Homo sapiens: one gene and its partner. The protein of the gene in region 2 interacts with the protein of the main gene of each other region in a pairwise test. Each region holds a gene or a part of one and is shown on either strand. Other genes may lie near its edges.

Evidence for each region.
Region 1: the proteins of SLC41A1 (region 2) and TMEM248 interact in binary tests that used the Homo sapiens proteins (3 or more experiments, as listed by UniProt).

The regions. Positions count from the first base shown.
Region 1 is NC_000007.14:66,938,087-66,942,004, forward strand, and holds part of TMEM248 (transmembrane protein 248), read left to right. Parts: intron 1-3,761; coding exon of another isoform or gene 3,762-3,779; coding exon 3,780-3,918.
Region 2 is NC_000001.11:205,792,330-205,796,247, forward strand, and holds part of SLC41A1 (solute carrier family 41 member 1), read right to left. Parts: intron 3,150-3,918; coding exon 3,015-3,149; intron 2,690-3,014; coding exon 2,541-2,689; intron 1-2,540. UniProt on the Homo sapiens protein: Na(+)/Mg(2+) ion exchanger that acts as a predominant Mg(2+) efflux system at the plasma membrane.

The DNA of each region.
Region 1 (3,918 bases), on a different chromosome or scaffold from region 2:
CATCGTTGGATCTGGTTTTTTTATTCATTCAGCCACTGTGTCTTTTGATTGGAGAGTTTAGTCCATTTACATTCAGTGTTGTTACTGATAAGTAAGGATTTACTCCTGCCATTTTGTTAGTTGTTTTTTGGTTGTTTTGTGGTCTTGTCTTCTTTCTTTCCTTCCTTCCTGTCTTCATTTTAGTGAAGGTGATTTTTCTCTGGTGGTATGTTTTAATTTCTTTTTATTTTTTATGTATCTGTTATAGGTTGGGCTTTCTTTATAGGACAGTGAAAACATTTGAAAATTGATAGTGAGGGTTGTTGTTCAAATCAGTGAATATACCAAAAATCATTGAATTGTATACTTTAAATGGGTGAATTGTATGGTATGTGAATTATTTCTTAATACTATTAAAAATATCAAGAACCTTTCTTTTTCTTTTCTTTTTGTTTTCTTTTGAGATGGAGTCTCGCTCTATCGTCGAAGCTGAAGTGCAGTGGTGTGATCTCGACTTGCTGCACCTCCGCCCTCCGGGTTCAACTGATTCTCCTGCTTCAGCCTCCCAACTAGCTGGGACTACAGGCACATGCCACCATGCCCAGCTACTTTTTGTATTTTTCATAGAGACGGGGTTTCACCATATTGGCCAGGCTGGTCTTGAACTCCTGACCTCGTGATCCACCTGCCTTGGCATCCCAAAGTGCTGGGATTACAGGCGTGAGCCACTGTGCCTGGCTTCTCAAGAACCTTTCATATGGCAAAAGATACCATAAACCATATTAAAGAAAACCCAGACTTGGATTAATTATACGTAACATATAAAACTGTTAAAGGCTTAGTACCCAAAACACAAAAGGAATTTCTAAACATCAATAAGAAATAGACTAACACCCTATTAGTAACTTACCAGAGGATTCAGGCAGTTCAGTTAAGATTGGGCCTAAATGGCTGATTAAAAAAGCGGAAAGATGCTTTGTTTCAGGGAGATACCATTTAAAATAATAGAGATATCATTTCACATCTGTCTTTTTGGACCATATTAATATGCCTTAGGAAATCAAGTGTTGGCACAAATCTCATGGAATGGAGCAGGCTCCTTCACTGCTGGGGAAGTGTAAACTGGTTGATCTCCTTGGAGAGTGGTCTGACAATATCAGGTTGAAGACAGGCCCTACTCTGTGACTTTGTTGTACTACAGCCACTCTTGTACCTGTTGCAATGCGCTTGGTGGGTGAAACAGTAACAGGAACCCAGCTAGGCCCCTCAGACTGGAATAACTCAACCACAGAACAATTACATATATACATCAGTGAAATTCAACGAACTAGATCAACAGAGATCAACAGAGATGTCAGAAAAACAATGTTGAGTGAAAGTGGCATGGAAAATGTGTTGCTGTTGATTTTTAGGGGCTGTTGATGCATCTTTTTGTCTCTAAAATTTAAACGCTGATACAGACTTTTTAAAAAATTGCTTTTTGCTAATGTTGTCGCAGTTTGCTCGTGTTTATAAGTGCTCATTGTGTGCCAGCTACTGTTCTAGGGGCCAGGGGCCAGGGCTGTAGCTGTGAACAAGACAGGCAAAATCTCCACTCTCACTGGGCTCATAAATGAGGGATGACAGATAGTAAACAAGTAGGAAAATAATTGTGCTCTTGGTTGATGCTAAACAATATAAAGGAAATAAAGCAGGGGCTGAGGGTGACCAAGGAAGGTGTGCAAAATCTCCGCTCTCGTTGGGCTCATAAATGAGGGATGACAAACAGTAAACAAGTAGGAAAATAATTGTGCTCTTGGTTGATGCTAAACAATATAAAGGAAATAAAGCAGGGGCTGAGGGTGACCAGGGAAGGTGTGCTCTGAGGAGCTGGCTATTAAACAGAGACTTGCATTTTTTTTTTTAATTGAGACAGTCTCATTCTGTCCCTCAGGCTGGAGTGCAGTGGCGTGATCCTGTCTTACTGCAACCTCCACCTCCCAGGTTCAAGTGATTCTCCTGCCTCAGCCTCCCTAGTAGCTGGGATTACAGGTGTGCACCACTATACCTGGCTAATTTTTGTATTTGTAGTAGAGGCGGGGTTTTGCCATGTTGGCCAGGCTGGTCTCGAACTCCTGACCTCAAGTGATCCACCCGCCTCGGCCTCCCAAAGTGCTGGGATTACAAGCATGAGCCACTGCGCCCAGCCATAGATGTGCGTTTTAAGAAGAGCAAACGTGGAAATGTTTGGGGAAAGCATCCAGGCAGATACAAAATTCTTCAGCTACATCATGGTCAAAAATGGCAGGAAGCATTAAATACTTATGAATAAACTTAATAAAAGAAGTGCAAACGTTAACACTGAAAACAGAAAACATTATTCAAATAAGGAAGCTAAATAGATGGAAAGGTCTGCAAGGCTCTTTGACTAGCAGACAACGTTGTTTGTTAAGAGAGCAGCACTCCCCAAAGCGATCCACAGATTCAGTGCAGTCCCTGTCAGTCCCAGCTGATTTCCTTGCAGACATTGACAAGATGATCCTGAAGAATAGCAAGTCCAGTGTGGCCAAAGCCCAGGAGGGAGGAGGGGAAGTGGATGGTGATGCAGTCAGGGAGACTGGCAGGGCTTCTGAGTCCTGAAAACCCTGTGGGCCATGACAGGGAGCTATTGCCGACCTCTCCTAGGTCTGGTAGAAGCCTTAGGAGCTTTTAAGCAGGGCTGGGATGGCTGTGAGCCATATGGCAATGAGCAGGACAGAATGTCGAATAAATAGAATTCAGCTTTTCAGTGGCAGGAAATGAGAGCATCCTCACTTTCTTTCTGTACATGTTGTGTATTTGTGTCACATTACTGACCCACCTAAACCTTTTCTTAAGTGATACGGAAGTAACAGTATTTATTATAGAATATTTAGAAGATTGAGTCTGGGTACGGTGACTCACACTTGCAATCCCAGAACTTTGGGAGGCTGAGGCAGGAGGATTGCTTGAGGCTAGGAGATCAAGACCAGCCTGGGCAACATAGCGAGACCCCATCTCTTAAAAGGTAATAAATTAGCCGGGCACGGTGGCTCACGCCTGTAATCCCAGCACTTTGGGGGGCCAAGGCAGGCAGATTACGAGGTCAGGAGTTCGAGACTAGCCTGGCCAATATGGTGAAACCCCATCTCTACTAAAAATACAAAAATTAGCTGGGTGTGGCGGCACATGCCTGTAGTCTCAGCTACTTGGGAGGCTGACGTGGGAGAATCACTTGAACCCAGGAGGCAGAGGTTGCAGTGAGCCAAGACTACACCATTGCTCCAGCCTGGGTCACAGAGTGAGACTCCGTCTCAAAAAAAAAAAAAAAGAAAAAAAAAAATTAGCCGGGCATAGTGGTACACACCTTTAGTCCTGGCTACTCGGGAGGCTGAGGTGGGAGGATAGCTTAAGCCTAGGAGTTCAAGGCTGCCGTGAGCTATGATCACGCCACTGCACTCTAGCCTGGGTGACAGAACGAGAGACCCTGTTTCTTAAAACACACACACACACACACACACACACACACACACACAATATTTAGAAGATTCAAACTGAAAGAGAATATGTATTCAGGATCCTGCCACTTTGAGGTAATGGCAGTTAACATTTAGTGTTTCTTCCTTCTAGTCTTTTGAATGAAGTTATGATCCGACATTTCTCAAATTCAGTAATGAGTGCCCATCCCACCCAGCTCACCCCCCAACACCTCAAAAGGAAACAAAAGAATCATAGCTTTCCTGTTGGCAAGTCAGTCCTTGAAGCTTCTGATTCATTTCTTTCAGGTGGAGCTGATCAGAATAATGTTCAGCATCAACCCCCTGGAGAACCTGAAGGTGTACATCAGCAGTCGGCCTCCCCTGGTGGTCTTCATGATCAGCGTAAGCGCCATGGCCATAGCTTTCCTGACCCTGGGCTACTTCTTCAAAATCAAGGAGATTA
Region 2 (3,918 bases):
AGTTTATTTTAACATTAGTCCTAATAAAGTTGAATTGTGAATAAGTCACCTCAATATTAATATAAAGCAGACAATGCATACCAATTCAAAATACATTTGACATGATCTGTGGCTTTGATTTTATCTGTGTTCTTGCTTACCTTCTATTAATACAGATAATTAAGAATGACTCAGATCAGAATCTCGCTAGTGGGCCCAGGACCAGCAGCATCAACAACAGCTGGGTGCTTGTTAGAAATGCAAAATCTCTGGACCTCTTGAGTCAGAGTCCGCATTTAACAAGATTTACATGCGCTTTTAAGTTGGCGATGCCCTTGATCTAGAATACCACGGTGGGGCAGGCCTGAATCTCCTAGAATCTGCACAGTGCCTGACATTTGGGCTCCCTAAATGACTGCATCTGCGTGAGAATGAAACAGATTCTGACGGTCAAGCTCTAATACAGTCAGTCATCTGGGAGGTTTTACCCTTGACTATACTTTGTAAATACTGTGGTATGAAAATTCTGCCCTAAGGGATCCAGATGCGGGAACCACAGCCCTTAAGGGATCCAGAAGCCAGAACTGATACCTATTTTTAGGCAATCTTGGTTGCTCTCCTGTCCTCTCTCTTTTTTTTTTTTTAAATTTTAGGCTCTGCCTGAGAGAATCCTGCCCTCTCTCCAAGGAAGCCAGAGATGACTCTTCACATTCTCCCTTGCTCTGCACACAGCTGTCTTGTGCTACCACGGCCTTGGCTCCCCTACCTTCCATAACTTCACACCCTTTCCAGCAGCTGCAGAAGGGTCCCAAATAAAGAGCATGGCCAGGAGGCCTTTGGGACATGCCCTAGGAAGGGAATGGTAGCAGCTGTCCTCACATTCCAGCTTCTTGAGCAGGCCCCAGGACACACAGCTGGGAGGAGGTGGCAAAGGGATCAATAAGAGCCTTTACAGGGGATCAAGTGTCACGCTCTGGCCCTCCACAGATCTAGAGAGGACAGCAGAGGCAAGAATGTCTCCAGGGTATTCATCATGGGTGATGGCACTGAGGCTCATCCTTTCCAATTCAGGCCAAGGGATGAGCTGAAAACCTCCACCACAGACCCCTGGCATATCCACCCCCATCTTCCCACCACGTGCTGCACTGGAACCCACTAGCAATGGAATGTGGCAGCTTGGCTAACTGCTGCAGGGCAACAGCATATGGCTGATTCTCAGCCCCGCCCCTGCCAAGATGTCCGAACACAACCTTTCTAAAGCTGGGGGTGAGGGGGCTGGAGGGATAGGTGTTAATCAATACAGGACTGGCGAAATAAAATTATGGTCTGTGTATCACAGAATATGATGGAGCTGTAAGAAAATCAGGGTGTTGTTCTCTTTATGTATTGATATGGAATGATCTCAAAGATAAACTTAAATGAAAAATGCAGGGTGCAGACAGTGTGTACAGTATACTACATGTGTGTAAAAAAGAGGAAGGAAATAAGAAAAATATATGTTTACTTTTATAAATATAGAATAGGTTTGAAGGACACACAAGAAAGGGATAATACTGATGGTCTGTGAAGGAGAGAAACAGATGGCTGTGAAGAAGAGGACAGAAAAGAAGACTTTTCACTGAGGTTTCTCTATGAACCTTAAAACATTTTTGAACTATGTGACTATTCAAAAATCAAACCTATAAAAATTTAAAATGTAATAATAAGGGTGGATCTAGCTGTAAAGGGATAGCATAAGGGAGCCTTGTGGTGATGAAACAGTTTTCTGTATTTTGGTTATAGTGGTGGTCACACAAATCTCCACTTGTGATAAAAACTGCATAGAACGAACACACACGCACACACACACACGAGTGCATGTAAAACTGGTTCAATCTGAATAAGCACTGCAGATTGCATCAATGCTAATTTCCTGATTTTGATACTGTCCTAAAGTTATGCAAAATGTTATTTTCCCATGGAGGGAAATTGGGTAATGGTATATGGGATTTCTGAACCTTTTTTTTGAGAACTTCTTACAAATCTGTAATGATTTCAAAATAAAAAGCTTTTACAATGTAATAATACAAGAAGGGAGAAAGTGTCATGGTATTATGGAATGGCAAGGCTACACAGGATCCGACAGATTATCTAGTGCAGTGGTTTTGACAGTTTTTCAAGCTATGGGATGCTTTATGCAAATGAATTTCTTGAGAAAGCTCAACATGCAAAACAGAGCCATGTGGAGCTCTGTGGCCAGTGGGGTTGGCATGCAAACCCCACAGGCTCAGCATCCTACAACCACCTGCATGAAAACTACCACCCCTGGTCCATTCCTCTCAATTTACAACTGTATCGCTGAGGATCAGGGTAGTAAAAGAACAGGGTCAAAGTCACACACCATGTTGGTGACTCTACTGGAACTACCATCTGTTCTCCTGCACCCTTGTCTGGTGTTTATCAGCTGCCCTGACACAGAGAAAGAGGAGGTTGAGTGTCTAAGAGGCCAAGTCTGGCCTCCTCTCCCATCCCTGCAGGGCATCCTGGCTCCTTCCCATGCCCCTGCTCCTGCCACTTTGTACCTGGAGCAGTGCAGCTGTCATATAGAAGATGATGAAGATGAGTGTGAGGGTGGTGTGCCCGCCCTGCATACAGCTGATGGTGTAGAGGAACACCAGGTGTCCTGGGACCACGAGGAGGAAGAGGACCCGGGCTGAGCGAGAATTCACATCTGGAATTGGGGAAAAGAGGGTGTAAAGAGGAGGGGAGGAGAAGACCTGGCCCCAGAAGGCCTTTCAAAGTCAGGAGGGACGGCACCATACCCCAGGGCAACAGACAGATGAATGTCTCTACTTCTGCATCCTGTGGTCTCCAACCCCTAGGGTGCTCCAGGAAAAGACAGCCCTCCTGCCTGGGCTCTGCCCTTCAGAACAGCTGGCACAGCCCAGCAGAGAAGGAGAACCTGTGGATCTGGGGCCCCAGCTGTCTCTTAAGTGAAGCTCACTGACAGTAGGCCCACTCCCCCCAGGGCTGGGAGGCTGGGAATCTGCCGTTACCAGGGCTGAAGAAGGTGGTACAAGGACTGGGACAGCGGCGAGGAGCTTGCTCAGAGTTCTCTCCGGGCATTCCATTCATGTGCAGGAAGGTGGAGATGCGGCTGGCCTGCACTGCCACCAGATTGCCCCCAACACCTGCAGAGACACATACGGGCTTAGACACAGACAGAGGTCAGAGGGAGGAGTGGGAACAAAATGATCTTCTCACTCTTTGTCTTCTATCTATAGAGGCACTGTCCTCTGTCTTAATTTAGGGTCTATGTGGGCATCACCCATTCACCAGTCCCCAAAAGAAGAGTAAGGCACTAAGAAGGAAGACAAAGACCCCTGCTTCCAGTGCATCTTCCAGCCTCCCCCATCCTCCCCTCTATGGAGATGCAGCAGTTCCATGTTCCCCTGGCAAAGCTGTGACAGTGCCGGAAAGGATACGTGCAGATCTGCAGACTCAGAGAGCCTGACTTCTCCACCAGTAGAGCATGGGCACCTGCCTTCCTACACAGCTGAGGGGATGAAGCCCTGCCTTGCCTCACCGCCTCACCTCCTCTCCAATGCTCTGAGCAGACCCAGGCATCCTATGGTCATATGCTGATTCTGGTAACCAGTTTCAAGGATCAGGTTTGAGCTCCAAACTCTGGAATCTGGTATCTCCGCCAGGACCTGTGCTGATTTCTCTGTTGCCCTCACATCCCAACCTGCTCCCTGCTCTTCTCAGCCTTGCTCTGAGCTCTGGGGGACTGGTCTCCACAGACTGCATTACCCAGTCTCCCTTGCTGGCTGCTTCCACTGTTTGTTCAGTGGGAGGCAACAGCAGGCAACCAGAGGGCAGGTGGAGAGAGAGATCAGGTATTTCTTTCCCAATCCCTCCCTGCTTTTCAGCATTGGCTTCCCCATGTTGGGGGCAAAG